Regions from separate parts of the Homo sapiens genome. Here region 2 is linked to region 1. The links come from fine-mapping of genetic effects on gene expression. A gene starts in region 1. The other region holds a variant in brackets. All regions are shown on one strand. Distances are from middle to middle.

The links. PIP is the estimated chance that this variant, and not a neighbour inherited with it, causes the effect.
Region 2: its variant is the best candidate, but not a certain one, in a credible set for the expression of ACER2 in lymphoblastoid cells (GTEx, PIP 0.66).

Annotation. Positions count from the first base shown.
Region 1 is chr9:19,406,879-19,411,272 of GRCh38, reverse strand. ACER2 (alkaline ceramidase 2) reads right to left here and starts at 2,264. Exons shown (of 6, transcript NM_001010887.3): 1 at 2,081-2,264. The coding sequence starts at 2,188. RefSeq lists enhancers at 2,019-2,168, 1,581-2,436, 2,437-3,294 and a silencer at 2,269-2,558.
Region 2 is chr9:19,446,693-19,451,086 of GRCh38, reverse strand. It overlaps ACER2 (alkaline ceramidase 2), which reads right to left. Exons shown (of 6, transcript NM_001010887.3): 6 at 1-637. The coding sequence ends at 451. Among named protein-coding and RNA genes, the nearest start is that of MAP1LC3BP1, 14 kb to the left of the region's middle. RefSeq lists enhancers at 4,144-4,394, 3,829-4,394. The variant T/C (reference allele first, on the strand shown) is at 2,612.

The sequences.
Region 1 (4,394 bases):
TTTGTGGTTTATGAGTATTCCAAGGAATAAAGTTTGTCAGATGGGCCAGCTGGGCTCATCAGCCAGACAATGCAGCTGAAGATCAACAGTTAGTTTCTGAAAAAGACTTTAGCACTCACTACATAGAGTAACGGCTCCAATGGGACTAGATTAAAAGTAAAGACAAACTCTCCCTTTCATCCAGCCCTATGACACTTTTCAAGACAGACTCAGAGAAGCCATACACTAGCTTTTTTGGCCAAAATAACCAAGGTTGACCCTCTCTGTAGACCCCAGGCTGCACAGAGAATAATCTTGCTAAGTGTGTGAGAACCTGTCATCAAGCTGTCTTTTCTTCTTGAACTCTGGTGAAATCCTTACTCTTTCACTATATTCTTTATTTACAAAAGGACAGCTTGTGTTACCACTGGTGTTTCTCCTTATTGAAAGTACCCAGAACTACTCCAGCCCATCCTCTGTGTGCAACTATTTACCCCTGACAGCATGCTCTGGGAGGTTATGCAATACATAAGTCATGGCCACTTCCACTGTCTTTCACAGTATCTGTGGTCAGCAGAGGGCCAGGTTTTCTTTGAGACCCTGTTGCCCAGGCTGGAGTGGAGTGGCGCGATCTCAGTTCATTGCAGCCTTCAACTCCCAGGCTCAGGTGATCCTCCCACCTCAGCTTCCCAAGTAGCTGGGACGACAAGTGTGTGCCACATGTCCAGCTAATTTTTGTATTTTTTTGTAGAGATGAGGTTTCGCCATGTTGCCCAGGTTGGTCTCGAACTCCTGGATTCAAGCGATCCACCTGCCTTGGCCTCCCAAAGTGCTAGGAATACAGGTGTGAGCCACAACGCCCAGCCTTAGGTTTTCTTAAGGAACCAACCTAATCATAAAAAAAGGAGCAGGAGTGTTTGTGTGGAAGCCAGCCATGGATTTCAGCACTGAGGGAAGGAAGGGCCCAGACTTCTGGATTGTGGCCCCAGCCATGCCAGAAATGTGAGCATGACAGCTCCCTCCTCAAGAGCCCAGTTTTCTCATCAGATGAATAAAAGGACAGGGACTAGATCATCTGAGATTCCTGCAGGCAGTAAGCACCTGACTCCTGCTGAAGACATTCTCTCTAGCAAATCCAAAAGGAAAAGTCCTAAACAACAACCTCAAATTCACAATGACCCAAACCAGGAGTTCCTGTTTCCCTTGTTTGGGCGGTGAAAAGATAAGCCACAGAAATGACCACGCAAAGTCTCACATTCTGTACCAGGATTCTGAGCCATGGACATACACAAAATAAGAGGCATTTCCTCTCCCAGCTGCAACCCTTCCCTACCACAAGAACTAAAATCACACAGGATTCTGCAATGGGGAAGTTTCTGCTCACCCTTATCTAGGGACCTAGGCAAATCCAAAACCCGCACATTATCACTCCCAAACTTTCCTTTCATCCCTCAGACTTCAGAACTGGAGAAAGCACAGTCCTGGGGGAGTTGAATTAGCGGCTTGCACAAGACAGGACACTAAAGGCAAGAAAAAAAAACAAGTAGTAATTAACTTGATTCTGACCAAAAATAACTCGACCATTATAGGCATGTTCTTGGGGGTGGGGCAAGTCTGCCTGGTGGGAGTGACCCCAGCCGCGGGGACCTGCGGGGGGCGTGCTCTTCCCAGCACTCCGAGAGCAGGTATTCAGGGCAAAAAAGCACAATGCGACCCAAGTGCGTCACGCCACAGAGATCCCAGGGGAGGAAGAGACTTGTCCCGGCAGGTTCACCGCCCCCAGCTGACCCAAACAAGGAGAATGGGCTGACACAGACCCCTGGTTCCTGGACGCGTGGGGGCCAAACAAGACAATAGGACCATCACAAAACAAATGACAGCAGGAGGAAGATGAGCCCAGCTGTCGGGAATGGGGACAGGAGAGGAGGACAGATGGAGAACTGAAAGGAGCGCGCCGAGGAGGGGGTGTGGACTGACTCAGCCCCTGGAGAGAATGCCCCCAGATGCGCGCAGAGACCCACGTCCAGCTTCCAGACGCTGCGGCGCGGGAACAGCCCCCTCCCGCTGGCCCGCCTGCCTTCCCCGCTCCCGCGCCCCGCACCGTGTTGTAGAACTCGGCGATAGCAGGCACGATGGTGTAGTTGTCCTCGCACCAGTCCACCTCCGAGCTACCAGCCTGCAGCTGGTCCCACCAGTGCGGGGCGCCCATGGCCACTCCGGGGCATTGGAGCAGCTGCTCGCGCAGCTGAGAAGAGCCCAGAGCTGCTGCGGAGGCAAAACGCGGCGACAGCCAGCGGCGAAAGCGGCTTTATGAAGCACCGGGTAACCGCCGGATGTGCGCCTCCCAACTGGCCTCCCGCGCTCCGCCCCGCCTCGCCTCGCCTGCGGGAGGTTACTCGTTCGCAGACCCTCCCCGGCCCCTCCCCCTGGAAGCCACGCCCACCGTGGGGCGGGACCCGCGTGGAGGAGGGGTCCAGGGTGGGGCGCCTGGAGGCGGAGACCGGGCTCCAGACTCTTCCAGACTACCCAGCACCCGGCAGGTGGCCAGGGCCTCGATGGTGCTACCCACGCCTGCCCACGCCCATCTCCTGGCTCAGACTCGCAGCCTCCCCCGATTGAAGGAGCGCCAGAACTCTCCCTGGAAAAAAATTTAAAATAAAAAGAAACCCGGGAGGACCTGGACCTCTCTGGACCCAGAGTTTGCAGCGATTTTGCTGCGTCCGGCGTTGGACGCCAGTGCTTACACCAGAGAAGTGCCCTCAGTCCCTCCGAGGCCGGACGCCACTCGCTGCGGTCACTGTGGCAGGAAGACCTTCCCGGCTGCTGGAGCAGGTTGGGCCGCCCAGTCCCCGGGGGAGCACTTCTATTTAGAGTACGTTCCTGCCCTCCCTCCCCTTGGCTCCAGCGTTAAGGCTTAATCTAGCCTTCGATATGGGGACTTAGGCAAAGGGTCAAACGTCAGCCATCCCAAACTGCAGAGGATGTAGTGTGGCAGTTATGACATCTCCAAGATATCGAGGTTCAAGAGGTGATAGATAACATACACATGCCAGGTGCTGTCTGAAGAGTTTCCATGTATCACTCATTTAGTGTGCCCAGCAGAGACCCTGTGAGGGGCTTCTATTAGCAAGTGACAGAGCTGGAAATTCAATTCAGGCAAGATGTCCTCAGATCCAGTCATAACTACCTTCTTTTGCTTCTGTAACTGTTCTGCGGTTTGTAAATGAAAGCCAATCTGGTTCCCAGGATCCCTAGAGGAAAGCCACCCTCTGTGTGTATGTGGTGGCTCCCGTTCTCCTTCCTTGAAAGGTTGTAGGATTCTAGGTCAGGACAGCGGCAGAAGAGGCCCTGGGCAGCAGCCCATTGGTGACTGTCATTAGGACGTCTTGCTCGGACCCGCAGGGTATCCTAAAGGCCAGCAACTCCCCAGGGTCTGCCCTCTCTCTGGGCCTGACTGCCCAGCAGGACCCTGGGTGGTGCTTCAGTGTCCTCTGCACCAAGTGTTTGTCTGCCCACCAGTACCCACACAGCCATGTGCAAGTCCCCAGAGATCTCCATCACTGACAAAAACTGCAAGCCCCGCCGCCTCTCCTAGTCTCTAGAAAATCCAGGTTTGTCCCCCAGGGGCCAAACCACACTCCTCCTTTCATCTTTGTCCCAACCTCTATCCCTTCCTCCTGCTTTACGGGCAATTCCACTGCCCTCCAGAACCCAAGTAGAAGATACACTCTTACCTTCCCCTAGGGTTGATTTACCCAGACCTACAGGATACCCGGAGTGAGCTGGCCACCTAAGAAAGGCGGTTGAGGGCCGGGCGCGGTGGCTCATGCCTGTAATCCCAGCACTTTGGGAGGCCGAGGCAGGCGGATCACGAGGTCAGGAGATGGAGACCATCCTGGCTAACATGGTGAAACCCCGTCTCTACTTAAAAAAAGAATACAAAAAATTACCCGGGCGTCGTGGCGGGCGCCTGTAGTCCCAGCTACGCAGGAGGCTGAGGCAGGAGAATTGCGTGAACCCGGGAAGCGGAGCTTGCAGTGAGCCGAGATCGCGCCACTGCACTCCAGCCTGGGTGACAGAGCGAGATTCCATCTCAAAAACGAAGGGCGGTTGGGGTGGATGTTTCCCACAGCCACAGAAGAAAGATACATCAGTTAATTTCTGTGTCTCAAAATGCTACACCAACTGTTCAGCAATAGAATTTTCCCTGTAGTCAATATTTTACTTCTTCCAACAACAGTTTACTTGGAAATATATCCATATTCATCAAAATATAATGGTATTTTTAAAAAACCATTATTTTATATGCCAGAGATTCTCAAAGTGTGGTTCCTCCCTTTCTTTTCATTTTCATTCTCTTACCAGTGTACATTGGAACTTCCCAGAGGATACATGATGTGTGATGTCATTATCTC
Region 2 (4,394 bases), 40 kb before region 1:
AAAGATGCATCTAGTGTCCCTAAGCCCTCCATTTTCCATCTTTGGGAAAGGAATAGACACTTTTCCCCTTGTACAGTGGAATCCAGGTGGTCCACAGACACATTAGGGAGGAGGAGGGGACCTTTTTAAAAATTACACAAAATCCAGAAATCCTAAAGAAAAGATTAACAGATGTGACAACATGAAAGTTTAAAACCAGTATGGCACAAAAATATTAACATACTGAAAGACAAATGGGAAACTGCAGGGGGGCAGGGAATATTTGTACCATATGACAAAGTTTAAATCCCTACATACAAAGAACACTAAAGAAATTAAGAGCCCCAGCAAATAGATTTTTGAAAAGATAGCCCACACCCCAACTATTCGAACTCCCTTGGCTGTCTTCCTAGCAAAGGAAGCCCACTGCATGAGGGGCGATAAGCAGAGAAGCCAGCCACCATCTTGCCATCACGTGATCTTGACTGATGATTTCTTGTTGGCACACAGGAGGGACACATAGGGGACACCAATGAAGGCCCATTTCTCATTGGGCCAGAACTTGATGACAGGGCCTTGCTCAGGAATCTCTGAGGCAGCATCAAAGTAGGCAAAGCATACACAGCCCAGGTAGGCAGCAAGGCAGATGAGGATGTGCCTGCAGAGGGAGACAAGAGGTGAGAACCTGATGAGCATGAAGACTCCGCTGCCCTGAGTTTAGCCTGCTCCTTCTTCCGGTCTAACCCACGCACCTTGCTGACTGTAGTTGCAGCCCAGGGGCCTCTTCTAATTAGGAAAGGATGAAGATTACCAACAATCCCTGGAATAGCAGGATGATAAATCTTCAGCAATTTGGGACCCGTTTTAGAATGTTCTTAAATAGTCCTGCTGGATAATAGGAACAAATGTGCAAATAAATGCCTTTGGGCCTCAAACAAGAAGACTGAGGCCCAAGGATTTACAACAGAGATGCTAAGATGGAAGTAACTGAGCACATCTGATTAGAACCCACCTTCTCACTTTAACAACTGGTTACAGATATTTTATGTCCTTCATCAGGAATAATTTTATGTTGGTTAAACCACTTTTGCAGTTTAGTGGAAATTTTAAAAAATTTATCCTCACTGTACCTGTACAAAGTTTTAAATTTATATTAAACTTTATCGAACAATAGACCATTTAAAAGCATGTAATCCTTTTTTTTTTTTTTTTTTTTTAAATGAAGTCTCACCCTGTCATCCAGGCTGGAGTGCAATGGTGCAATCTCGGCTCACTGCAACCTCTGCCTCCTGGGTTCAAGCAATTCTCCTGCCTCAGCCTCCCAAGTAGCTGGGATTACAGGCACCCACCACCAGGCCCACCTAGCTAATTTTTGTATTTTTAGTAGAGAGGGAGGGGGTTTCACCATGTTGGCCAGGCTGGTCTTGAACTCCTGACCTCAGGTAATCCACCTGCCTCGGCCTCCCAAAGTGCTGGGATTACAGTCGTAAGCCACTGCGCCCAGCCCAAAGACAATATTTTTATAAACTTTGATGTTGGGGAGGAGGGGATCTTTTTAAAAATTACACAAAATCCAGAAATCCTATAGAAAAGATTAACAGATGTGACAATATGAAAGTTTAAAACCAGTATGGCACAAAAATATTAATATACTGAAAGACAAATGAGAAACTGCAGGGGGGCAGGGAATATTTGTACCATATGACAAAGTTTAAATCCCTACATACAAAGAACACTAAAGAAATTAATCAGGGTCAGGGTGGGAAGTAGGTGAGAATGGTATGAACCAGATTGGCCTCGTGTTGATAGTTATGGAATCTGGGTGTTGCCTATATGGGGGTTCAATGTATTATTCTCTGTACTTGTGAAAATGTTGCAAATATGCATAAGTGGCACATAGTTACGTAGCTAGTAATGACTGTCTACTATGTGCCAAGCCTAGATGCTGAATATAAACTGTTTTATTTTTTATTTTTTGGAGACGGGGTCTCACTCTGTTGCTCAGGCTAGAGTACAGTGGCACAATCTCAGCTCACTTCAATCTCCGCCTCCCAGGTTCAAACGATTCTCCTGCCTCAACCTCCCAAATAGCTGGGACTACATGCACATCCGGCTAATTTTTTGCATTTTTAGTAGAGACGGGGTTTCACCGTGTTAGCCAGGATGGTCTCGATCTCCTGACCTGGTGATCCACCTGCCTCGGCCTCCCAAAGTGCTGAGATTACGGGCGTGAGCCACCACGCCCGGCTGATATGAACTTTTAAAAATAGAAACACTCAATAGACCAGACAAAGAAAATTAAAAGGGGAAATACACATCACAAATTGACATTTGAAAAGATGCCCAACAAAAATACTAATTTTTTAAAAAGACATAATAATAAAAACAAAATATAATTTTTCTCAAACAGGTTAATGGAGATTTAAGAGTTTCCAGTATATGTGAAAGTGTGGGTAAAAAATGCTCTCTTACAGACTTCAGTAAACAGTGTTAATGGTACAGTTTCTCTGGATTTAGCAATATATAATATTAATTTAACATATGAAAATATTCAGAAACTCAAATCAATCTAGATGTTCATTATAAAGTGTTTGCAAAAGTGGAAAATTAGAAATAACCTCAAAGTCCGTTA[T/C]CAGAGAGAGGTTGGTTAAATAAATTATAAAGTGTCCATATTATGAAGCATTTATTAGACACAAAAATGAAGATTATATATATGTATTGGTATGGAATGATGTCTGTATAGCATTAGATCTATGTAGTATAGATTTAAGTATTTGGTTAAAAAAAAAGTTTGGGCCAGGCTCAATGGCTCATGCCTGTAATCCCAGCACTTTGGGAGCCCAAGGCAGGTGGACCTGCTCGAGCCCAGGAGTTTCTGACTAGCCTGGGCAACATGGCAAAAATCCATCTCTACAAAAAAATTCAAAATAAATTAGCCTGGCACAGTGGCATGCACCTGTAGTCCCAGCTCCCTGCAGGGGGTGAGGTGGGAGAATCACTTTCAGTCCGGGAGGCAGAGATTGCAGTGAGCCAAGATCACCCCACTGCACTCCAGCCTGGGCAACAGAGTGAGACTTTGTCTCAAAAAAAAAAAAAAAAAAAAGTTTGCATCGTGTATAGAATGATGCTATTTTTTTTAAAAGTAGACATATATATGTGTGCGTGTGTGTGTACATATAAAATCTCAATGGATATACATCAGACTGTTAATAATTATGTTTCTTTGGGGGATAGAATTATGAGAGCCATTCTTTCTATACTTCTATGTTGTTTAAATTTGTTATAAAAAATATGTCATTTTATAACTGGAAAGAAAATATGGTTCAACTTTGAAAAACAAAGCAGAAATATACCAAATTCAGAAACACATTAAGTTTGAGTCAAAATTATTACATAGTTTAAATTTCGAATTTGACTTAAATCATGTGTGACAGGGGACTTAGATAAAAATGACCATCTTGAATGAGGTCATATTTACCTAGTGTATACATTTCTCAAAATTCACAATATACACTTAAAATCTGTACATTTTGTTATCTGGAAATTATAACCCAACAAATATATAAACTATATAAATTCACTAGTATTAGTTGAGTTGAATCTAAAAAATATCGAGCAATGGATCCTAAGACGGTAAACTCCAACTTGTGCTGTTTGAATTTTGTCTTTTACAAACACTCCTTGAAGTCCCCAAGTCTTAAATTTAGAGTAGGGTGGGTCTCATAGCAAATATATCAAAGTTCACATGAGCAAGGGAACTTAAGTGAATTCTATCAAATTGTATATTTTTAGCCTATCTCTGGATAGAAGTCAACCTTTTCCTGAATCTAGATCTAACAAAGTTTTTCCATTTCTTCACCACTAGAATTCCTCTCTGGGTTCCTCCTACCTATAGGGGATAACCTACAGCAGATTTCTCCTCCTTGTGATCTTTTGCAATCAGAAGTCCTGGAGGACAGAAAGGAAAGATCACTCTGGGTTTGAGGCTGAAGCAGTTCCTAGGAAGAAAGCCACTCCAATTTCCCCCAGCTTTCTCAGAATCGGATTCTGCATGTATTTTGTAACCCGCTTTTTTTTTTTTAACTTAGTGTATCCTGAGCATTCCAAAGTATAGACGCTCCAATGTGCTATTACTGAACTCCAAGGTTGTTTTCTACAGAAACAGGTGGGTGACATTAAACAATTCACTTTAGCTCTCTGGTCTTCTGTCCCCACTTATAGAAATAATGGAAGAGAATGTCTCTAAATGGCCAGTGCGGCCCCTCCTTGCACTTGGTCTCTCAGGCCCTAAAGGTGGGGTTCCCACTGAGGACCCTCCCAGCCCTCACATCACCTCTTTCCCCAGCTTTCCCCTACCTCTCCCCTCCCCCAACACCTAGCTAGAGCTCAGGTTACAGGTTCAGTTCTCAAGCTCC